2 separate regions of the Homo sapiens genome follow, and region 1 is linked to region 2. The links come from fine-mapping of genetic effects on gene expression. A gene starts in region 2. The other region holds a variant in brackets. All regions are shown on one strand. Distances are between the middles of the regions.

The links. PIP is the estimated chance that this variant, and not a neighbour inherited with it, causes the effect.
Region 1: its variant is fine-mapped to the expression of LINC03125 in esophagus muscle (GTEx, PIP 0.91).

What each region holds. Positions count from the first base shown.
Region 1 is chr20:23,184,957-23,190,145 of GRCh38, reverse strand. LINC03125 (long intergenic non-protein coding RNA 3125) reads right to left here. Exons shown (of 6, transcript NR_199692.1): 5 at 2,506-2,831; 6 at 1-363. Among named protein-coding and RNA genes, the nearest start is that of LINC03125, 39 kb to the right of the region's middle. The variant C/T (reference allele first, on the strand shown) is at 2,283.
Region 2 is chr20:23,145,521-23,150,709 of GRCh38, reverse strand. LINC03125 (long intergenic non-protein coding RNA 3125) reads right to left here and starts at 2,607. Exons shown (of 6, transcript NR_199692.1): 1 at 2,296-2,607. RefSeq lists enhancers at 1-464, 1,959-3,158.

The DNA of each region.
Region 1 (5,189 bases), 39 kb before region 2:
TGCAAAGGGCAGAGGGAGATCCACGGCCCACTTGCCATGTGGCCTCACATCGAGGGACGCCGTGTGATATGGCTTGGAGACATGCACTTGACGGCAGTGACAACAGCTCTCAGCCATGTCTGGCAGCCACTTACTTTCCCCAAGCACATCATATCATCACCTGGGAACAGCAGCTCGCCTCCTTGGGAACACAGGTTTGAGGTCTCATGGCTTCCCAGGGATAGGGGAAAAATGCAGCAGAAGGATTTGGGGCCAAAACCCATTTCTTCTCCCCAGAAGGACCACCTGGAGGTCTCTCATGGTCTTCGGCTCATCTTTGCAGCAGCACTAACCAGCGTGGGCATACTCTGCTAGGACTTCTGCCTAAGGGAGAGAAGGGGTCTCTTACCTTGGTCACGCCCTTGCCTTGAGCACACGGGCGCCAAGCTTCAGAAGGGAGACAAACCCCACACGGCTATAATTAGGGGCTTTCTTAAGTCCCTGTCACGCATGATCAAGTGTGCCAGGATTCGGGATCATACTTCCTCCCAGGACTTCCAAGCTCTTGCGTGTGATCTTCTCTAAGTCTGGGGGCTGAGGAAAAGCCAGCCCTCCCCTCCCACCAGCACCCACCCAGTGCATCTCCACCCATAGCTCTCTCTCCCAGCCAGGTCTGGACCAGAGATGCCTCAAGACAGGCGACATTGGTGACATCAACGGGACCCCAGAGGGTCTTCATCTCACTCTCAGAAGCAGGCAGCATTCTGAAAATCACCCTCACGGGCCTGCCTCTGCTCCACAGGACACCCGATGGCCCGAGGAGCTCAGATTCACCTCTCCCACCAGGGTTCTCTGTTCCTTTAAAATCCCACCTTTCCTGTCCTTCTGATTCAGAGGAAGGAGTTCTCAGGACTGTGTCTCCTCCTCCACGGCCCTGGGATCTTTGCCTATAGAGCTCCTTCTCCTCCATCTGTGAGCAAACCTCCTCCCATAGGCAGAAACCACATCCACACACACAAACCCACACAACACACCAACATCACACAGACACCATGCACACTCATAAACCCACACACAACACACCAATATCACACAAACACATATAAACCCACACACAACACACTGACATTACACACACCAACATCACATACACATAAACCTACACAACACACTGACATCATACACACAGACACCACACACATAAACCCACACAACACACCAACATCACACACAGTCACCACACACACATAAACCCATACACAACACACCAAAATCAGACACACACATAAACCCACACACAACACACTGACATCACACACACTGACATGATGCACAAATATACACCCACACACAACACACTGACATCACACACACAGACACCACACACACATAAATGCACACACAACACACCAACATCACACATACACATATCAACCCACACACAACACACTGACATCACACACACCGACATCACACACATAAACCCACACACAACACACTGACATCACACACACAGACACCACACACACACACACAATCCCACACAAAACACACCATCAGACACAGACATCACACACACACACATAAACCCACACACAACACACTGATATCACACACACCAACATCACACACAAACATAGACCCACACACAACACACCAACATCACAAACACAGACACCACACACACACATAAATCCTTACACAACACGCTGACATCACACACACAGACACTATATACACACACAAACCCACACAACACACCGACATCACACACACAGACACTATGTACACAAACATCACCCACAGACACCAGATGCACACACCACACACACTCAAACTTCTCTCTTACACACACTCTTCCATCACACCCTCACAGAGTCATGACACATGAGCATACTACACACATATCACACAAATATTCACAGACACACAGACAACCCCCCCCACACACACAATGCACACACCACACAACTGTCTCCCCGGGCCCACACCCTGTCCATATACAGACCATGGAGAGCAAGAAGGGCTGAAGCTGGTCTTGCCCCTGCCTCCTGGAGGAGGAGGGTGCACCTGAAAACAGACCCAGCAAGAGATGGGAGCCCCGGGAGCAGCCCAACTCCAGGTCCTCTGCAGAAGTGTCCTAGCCGCCACCAGGCTGCCCTGCATGGCTCAGCAGTTTCCAGTGCCAGGCTGCAGGGAGGTGTGTGGGGCTGGAATGCGAAGGCAGCAGAAACCGCCCTGCTCACTCTGACGTCAAAGAAGGGAGGGAGCCATGGGCAGTTGTGGCAGCTGTGGTTCTATAC[C/T]GGTCCCAGATCTCACTGCCCATCTGCTTCCCTGCACCCGTAGGGCCTGCTGAGCTGGGCAGGGCAGCCTGGTGGCAGCTGGGTCACTCCTGCAGAGGACCTGGAGTGGGGCTGCTCCCAGGGCTTCCATCTCTTGCTGGGTCTGGTTTCAGGTGCACCCTCCTGCTCCTGAGGGTCATCCTCTCTCTCTAGAGCCCTGCCCTGGGGTTCCCTCCTTCCCTACCTGGTTATCTCCTCCTTCCGGGGATCGCCCTTAATAAACACGTGCCCCCAGTCCTCATGTCAGGGTCTGCTTCAGGAGACACAGGATGCTCGGCAGGGTCTTCCATGGTGGGGACTCCCACAGCTTCTTTCTGGCTGCCCTGCCTTCAGGCTCTGCCAGTGGTGGCTCCCATTTCCCTCTCTCCCCTAAAGAAGAGCCTCCACCAGGTCCTGTTCTGGGCCTGTCACCCAGGGTCTTTGGCTCTGTCCTTGGTGGTTCAGGTTAAACGGTGGCCCCCTCAAAATTCAAATGTCAAAGTCTTCACATGCAGTACCTCAGCAAGTGACCTGATTTGGAGTTAGGGTCTGTGAGAGGTACTCAAGTAAAAGTGAAGTCACACGGGTGGGCCCTGATCCAGTAGGACTGGTGTCTTTACAGGAAGGGGAGATCTGGAGAGAGACAGGCACAAGGGGAAGGTGATATGGAGAGCCAGGGAGCAGATGGCTGTCCACCAGCCAAGGTGGGAGGCCTGCACTGGACCTGCCAGCCACCCTCAGGAAGAGCCAGGCTGTCCAGCACCTTGATCTCAGACTTGTGACCTCCAGCCCTATGCAAGAATAAACGTCTGTGGTTTAAGCTGCCCGGGGTGTGTTCCTTGGTGACATCAGCACCAGCAGACACCCAGTGAGAAAGGCTCTGCTTTGCCTGGGCCCTTGTGGTGTCCCTTTGGTGGGCAGAGACTTGCCTGTACCCGACAGAGCCACGTGCACCTGGGTGGGGTCACCTGGTGCTCACCAATCTCTTCACCTGGAACATCAGGCCTGGCAGATGGGACCACCCGAGCATAGACTCCACCTGCCAGCCTAACCTGCTGTGAGTTCTAAGAGAAGTCTTTTGGGCAGTTGACTTTTTTTTTACTTGCGAACCTGGAGATGGAATCAGCCTAGAGTACCTGCCTGAGGCCCTGGGAGACTCTGTGGAACCGAGCCCCACCCCTTCTCGGCCTAGGGGCGAGTGTGGCTGCTGAGCAGGCCCATCCAGGCTGATGGGATGGTGGGGCCTCAGGCAAGGAGGTGACCCTGGCTGTTCCCTAGTGAAATGTAATTCCTACCTTCCTCACAGGACCCAGGGCAGCTCAGAAAACCCCTCTGAGGAGGGAAACAGTATCCAAGGAAGTAGTGCTGTGTTCTTGCCCTCTTCGCTGGTACCTGCAGGGAAGTTCTCAACATTTCAGAGCCCTTGGAGCCTCCAGTGGCCTCCTGCTGTGGTGGGAAGAGCACGGACATGAGCCAGCCAGCCAGAGCTCCAATTCCAAACCCACTGCTTACCCACTTTAAACTAACCTCACCTCAGTTTCCCCACCTGAGTGATGGGGACGAGACTATTCCCCTCAGAGTTCAGTACAATGTGGGCACTCTATCAACGTGCTTGCCAATGTTCTAGAAAACAACAGTGGCTCTGGATAATTTGAGGAGGCAGCAAGGGTAGTGATAAGGACAAAACAAAACAAAACAAAACAAAACTGGCAGGGCCACAGAAGGAGAAGGGGAAATTTAGGTAAGAACTCAGAAAAGCATCAGAGTTAGCCAGAGAAAGTCCTTTGTGAGGGGGGCTCTGTTCCAAGAAGGCTGAGTAGGAACAGCTCCAGTCTGCCGCTCCCAGCATGATTGACAGAGAAGATGGGTAATTTCCACATTTCCAACTGAGGTACCTGGTTCATCTCATTGGGACTGGTTGGACAGTGGGTGCAGCCCACGGGGGGCAAGCTGAAGCAGGCCGGGTGTTGCCTCACCTGGGAAACACAAGGGGTTGGGTGATTTCCCTTTCCTAGCCAAGGGAAGCTGTGACAGATGGTACCTGGAAAAACAGTACACTCCCACCCAAATACTGCACTTTTCCCAAGGTCTTAGCAACCAACAGACAAGGAGATTCTCTCCCGTGCCTGACTTGGCAAGTCCCATGCCCACAGAGCCTTGCTCACTGCTAGCACAGCAGTCTGAGATTGAACTGTGAGGTGGCAGCTTGGCTGGGGGAGGGGCATCCACAATTGCTGAGACTTGAGCAGGTAAACAAAGTGGCCAGGAAGCTTGAACTGGGTAGAGCCCACCAGAGGTCAGGAAGGCCTACTGCCTCTAGGCTCCAGCTCTGTGGGCAGGGCATAGCTGAACAAAAGGCAGCAGAAACTTCTGCAGACTTAAACGTCCCAGTCTGACAGCTCTGAAGAGAGCAGTGGTTCTCCCAGCATGGCATTTGAGCTCTGAGAATGAACAGACTGCCTCCTCAAGAGGGTCCCTAACCCCCATGTAGCCTAACTGGGAGACACCTTCCAGTAGGGGCTGACAGACACCCCATATAGGTGGGTGCCCCTCTGGGGCAAAGCTTCCAGAGGAAGGATCAGGCAGCAATATTTACCACCTGCAATATTTGCTGTTCTGCAGCCTCCGCTGGTGATACCCAGGCAAGTAGGGTCTGGAGTGGACCTCCAGCAAACTCCAACAGACCTGCAGCTGAGGGACCTGACTGTTAGAAGGAAAACTAATGAACAAAAAAGAATAACATCAACATCAACAAAAAGGACATCTACACCAAAACCCAATCTGTAGGTCACCAACATCAAAGACCAAAGGTAGATAAAACCACAAAGATGGGGAGACACTAGAGCAGAAAAGCTGAAAATTCTAAAAATCAGAGTGCCTCTTCTCCTC
Region 2 (5,189 bases):
CTCTGCCCTCACCCATTTTAGGAGCTGCCTCTTCCTCAAAGCCTTCTGAGTCCTCCCCTTCCCTTATGGGTGAGCCCCTCCCTGCCCCTGAGATCTCTGGGGGCACCTGTGCGACTTCTTCCCGAGGTGCCCTATACAACCCCTTGCCTAGTAGATTCAGCTGTGTTTTCTCAGACACCACAAAAGGCTTGTGCATTCTCTCGGGAGCCAGCCCTGGCGGCCTGGCAGGAGGAGCTTGGAGCTCTGTGTGCTGAGGAATCTGGAGCTCGCCCAGGCTCAGGTGCAGGGTTCCATGACAGGCTAACCATGCCTGCTGGGGAGCAGGGGGCACAGCGGAGGGTCAGGCTTTGGGAATCCATGTCCCAGGCCATCGTCACAGCTACACAGCTTTCTTCTTTCCACTTCTCCCTCAGATTTTCTAGCCTTTAAATAGGGTTCCTACAGATGAAGAGAAATGTCCCAGATAGAAACCCCACTGCGGAAAGTGATCCCCTCCCTCTGGGAAATAGAATCTCTGAAGAGGATCTTAGGCAGGATGGCACGCTGTGAGTTCAATCAGCTTTCTCAAGTGTGGATCTCAGGTGAAAACCAGGCCAATTCTCACCACACATCAGGGTCTAGGCTCCGTTTCCTGGCAGTGAGTCAGAGGGGTGACCCGAGGCTAAAGGCAGGATGGCACCTGGTCTAAAAATGGCCATGGTTAATCCTCAGGGTAGCAGCAATGGCATTTTTTGAAGAGTCAGGCCAGGGTAAATAAACTCTTGAGATGTAAATGTTTAGTCTTCTTTATTTCTGCCCATCTTGAGCAGAGCCGGGCCCTAAGCTCTGAGCAGGTTTAAATTCGCACAAGTGATAGGTCCCCCCTGGAGATCCTGCATCCCAGGTGCACTCAGCCCTGGCCTACAGTTCTCCTACAAAAGGCTTGTTCCTAGAGGACATTCACACATCAGAGGGAGAGTTAAGCAACATCATTTATTTGACTCTTCACTCACTTAGCAAACTTCGACTGAGAGAAGAAATTGAGTTTGTTTGGGAGCTGGTCCCAGGGAGCAGGAGGAAGAGGAAGAGTCAGACAGGGAGGAGGCAACACAGGGTGTGTTTCTGGGCCTTTGAAAGCACGCAGATTGCCTCTCAGAATTGTCCCTCTGAAGGACGAGGCCATATGCACTAGCTCCTACCTTGGGGACACTGGTGCCCTCCCCCAAATACCCTTCAGGTGGTGCCTGCACTCAGGCTGAGGAGGAGGATGTCACGGTGTAGGTGCAGGGAAGGGTGCTATCAGGAAGCACAGCTGTGTCCACCACAGCTGGGGGCCACGGGCCTGCACCTCCACACAGGTGTTGGCTGCTGCAGCCTGGGATGGTCCTCTCTCTCCAGCCCCAGGTCCCTGTGGCTGGGCCATAGGAGTCGCTCAGAAGACTTCATCCCAAACTCACAACTACCATCCTCATCTGAACCTTTGGAAGTCATGAAAATGTGGAAGCACTGGCTGGAAGTTAGCAAGCAGGTTATTATCGAGGCAATGGCTTATGCCGTCTTCCTGGGACCTCCATGTGGAGGAAGCCGGGGCTGCAGCAAGACCTCTGTCTTCGCCCTCGCTGTGGGTCTTGGATCTCACCAGAGCAGGAATCCTTTCAGACCATGGTTTCCTGGCTTATTTGTTTTGTAAAAAATCTGCTAAAGAGGGACTAAGAAGATGTGAAAGCCACATCCACGTATTTTAAAAGTTGCACATATTTTAAAAGTTGCACATAGAACAGGGAGGAGCTTGTCCTGTGTATCCCAGAGGATAAAGCTAGGGACAAGGGTGCTCTGTGTGTGTATGTGTGTGTGTGTGTGTGTGTGTGTGTGTTGTTTTGTTTGTGGTTCTCTGTGTCATCCCCATAGGATTTGAGAATGAGGGGAAGTAAAGGAAAACAAAGGAACACTTTAGATTGTCCTCTTGAAAACTCATGGATTTCCAAGCACTGTGCTAGAAGCTGCCACATCAGCATCTTCTGGGAACTTGTTAGAAAGGGAAATTCTTGGGCCCACCTCAAACCCACTGATTCTCATACATGCTCAGGTATGAGAATCACTCTTCTAAATATAGGAAAAGATCTTTCTAACAGATATCATTGACCAAAGTTGCAGTGCCTTTCCTCATGAGGTGGTGAGTGCTACTCTTCTGGAAGCATTCAAGAGAAGGAGTAACCATTAGTCACGCATGTTGCAAAGGAAGTGAACACAACAGGTACAGAGTTCAACTGAAGTCACTTCCTTGGTTGCTCAGTATTTTAGCAAACATTTACTGACCAGCAGTACTGGGCACTGTTCACAGTGACAGGCGACAGGAATAGAAATCCACAGAAGCTCCCCGTTCTTGCCTGCTCCGAAGACTGAAGTCCAGCAGTCTCTCATGCTGTGGGCCCAGACACTGCTCTCTGTCTTGACTGCCAAACCCTGGCTGGCCAAGTGACGATTCACCATCCTTACAACATACTCCAGTCACTGAAGATTCCCCACGGAACCACCACCTTCCTGCTCAGGCCTCTTCATCTATCCAACAGGAGGAGGGGAAAGAGACCATTGACCCAGGACTGCCCTGGCGTGCATGAAGCCCTGAGTGAGGGCTGTGGCAACTTCCCGGCCTGCACACACTGCTGCTGCTTTCTTGGTGCCTATGAGTCATGCCTTGTCACCCGTGTGACATTAATCACTCAGTGGGACTCAGAAATCCAGCAGATGAATTCTGAAACTGAGTTGGGGAGGAGGCCAAATGTCTCATCGTGAGATGAGTCCCAGGGTACAGTCTCGGACAGATGAATATTCTAGATTACAAGGCTTAGCACTTTAACCAGAGAATAAATACAGACTGTGGTTGTTTCCATGTATTTAAAAAAAGTAAATTATGACACAAGTGATGCACATTTGTTCGGGGAAAGTTACAGTACAGATGGGCAAAACCAAAGAAAAAAGTGCATCAGTTCCCCTAAACTCCACCACCCAGAAACAATTGCTATTAACAGGAGGACGTGGTTTACTTCCAATGCTTTTCTGGGCACATATGTAAGTGTGTGTGTGTGGCAGTGCAACCGTGGAATCGCATTGTAAGACTTGACCCTAACACAGCTTTCCATTTAAAGTATATTGTGAATACGTTTCTACGTCAATACATTTAAATGATCAATTTTAAAGCTATCTAGCCCTCTACTGGCATCAATGCAAATTTTCCTCAGATTGTATCACGTTTAAAAAGTTTTTCTAAGATACACCACACACTCTCCTGCCTTCCCTTCCTGTTTTCTAATCCAAGTACAGAAACATGACATTGCTTGTTTCTAGGTGCCTTGGGGTCGCTGTTATTCAGTGAACCCCTCAGGATGTAAAGTTTCAATAAAGAAGCAGTTTGGTAGAGACAAAAGAGCTCCAGATTAGAAATCAGGATAGCTCTGGGCCCCTGTGCACTCAGGCTCCACATGGTTATGCACAGAACCTTCAGAACCTTCAGATTCATCACTAGCAGGATGGGTCCAGGGCGTGGGTCTTTGCTATGAGATCACCTTAGGTACCTCTGGAGGAGCTGGTCACACCAGTGATAACCCTTTGGAGAGGAGAAAGTCAATGGAGGAGGAGAAGACATGCCTCAGAATCACACCCCAGTTGTTGCTTGAAGTGTGGTCAAGGAGCTGCTTATCTCCACCCACACCTCCTCCTGGACACACAAAGGATATACATTCCTGGGCCCAGTTCAGCTCTTCCAAATTGGAACCTTTGTGGGTGAAGCACAAATAACATGCTTTTAAACAAGTACCCCTGAAGTTTGTCACAGAAAGTTGAGCTCATTGCTCCACTCCTAAAATGTCATTTCTCTTAAACATCTGAAACGGTTCTGCTCGGAGAGGCCACCTGTTGACCACTTGCTTGGCTGCTTGGCCTCGTAGGGCAGGGGGCAAGCAGGAGACAGAGGAAAGATCAGGATCGACATTTTTCTTCAGTGTTCCATAGGAAAACCATTCTTTTATGTTTCTCTTTGGCATTTGCAAATACACACCAAAGATTTGCCTCCTGTGAGTTGTTTTTTTTTTTTTTTTTTTGGCGGGGGGTGGGGGGTGGGTAGAATGTCCTTGCCCAGCCCCTTCCTCACTGATTCTTAACCCTTCCCTCTCCCCGGATCCATAGTGCGCTCAGATCCTGACCCTCTGAGACTGCCCAGCCCCGAGACCCGCCACGTCCCCGCAGAACAGTCCATGCAGCGAAAAGATGAGAAACGTGACTGTGAAGCATGGTGCCCTTGATTCGACTGCTTCATTCATTTCAGCAGATGTCACCAGGGCCCTGTAGGGAAGATTGTGCAGATCTGTGTGGTCTAAACAGACAACTTCATGTAGATTGCACTGGATTTATCTTGGCTCTGCCCAGAGGTGATTTGGCTCTGATAGGGAGCCTTCTCATGGAGTGGTTTTGGCCTCTGAGAAGTGGCAGAATTGCTGAGTTCAGCCTGATTGTCCAGGAAGAGCCACATCTTATAGATTCTAATATTTCCTCAAGATCTTGGAATAGCACTGCTATTCACCAACTGATGCTTACTTATTAATTAAACATCTGTTAAACTCTCGATAGGTGCCAGACAGTGTAGTAGGTGGCCATATATTAGAATGAATAAACAGCTGAATCATTGCAGATGAACTTTGTTGCACTTCAGATAATCAAAAACATAATTCAAACTTGTTTAGGAAAATATAATAAATTTCATATGTCGTTTAAATACATAATTAAATAGATAAGATAATAGCTATTCATTACTCACCAAAGATCTGTTTTTTATAAGCACATTTCTCATTTAAATCAAACCCCCCCATCTCTGTGAGAGCTGTTTTGATGAAAAACTTTCACAAACAAGTGGCACATTTCTCACATCTGCTTTCTTAAGCAAAGTGTTCTTGTCTGGAGTTTGATTTGATTTTCTCTGTTGTGCATTGTGCCGTGTTGGGCAAATGAACCATACAATTGCACACCCCACCAGGGTGCTCCCAGTGACCCTGCCTGGCCAGGCTTCAGGGCACTGTTTCAGCCCTTTCTCTGATTCACTGTTTCCATCAGTGCCCGTCTGGGAGCGGTTGCCATCCTGCGTGACACATACAGCACACGTGCTCTCTCTGTGAGTTCTCGCCTTCCATGCCAAGTCTGCAGACTGACTCCATCTCAAC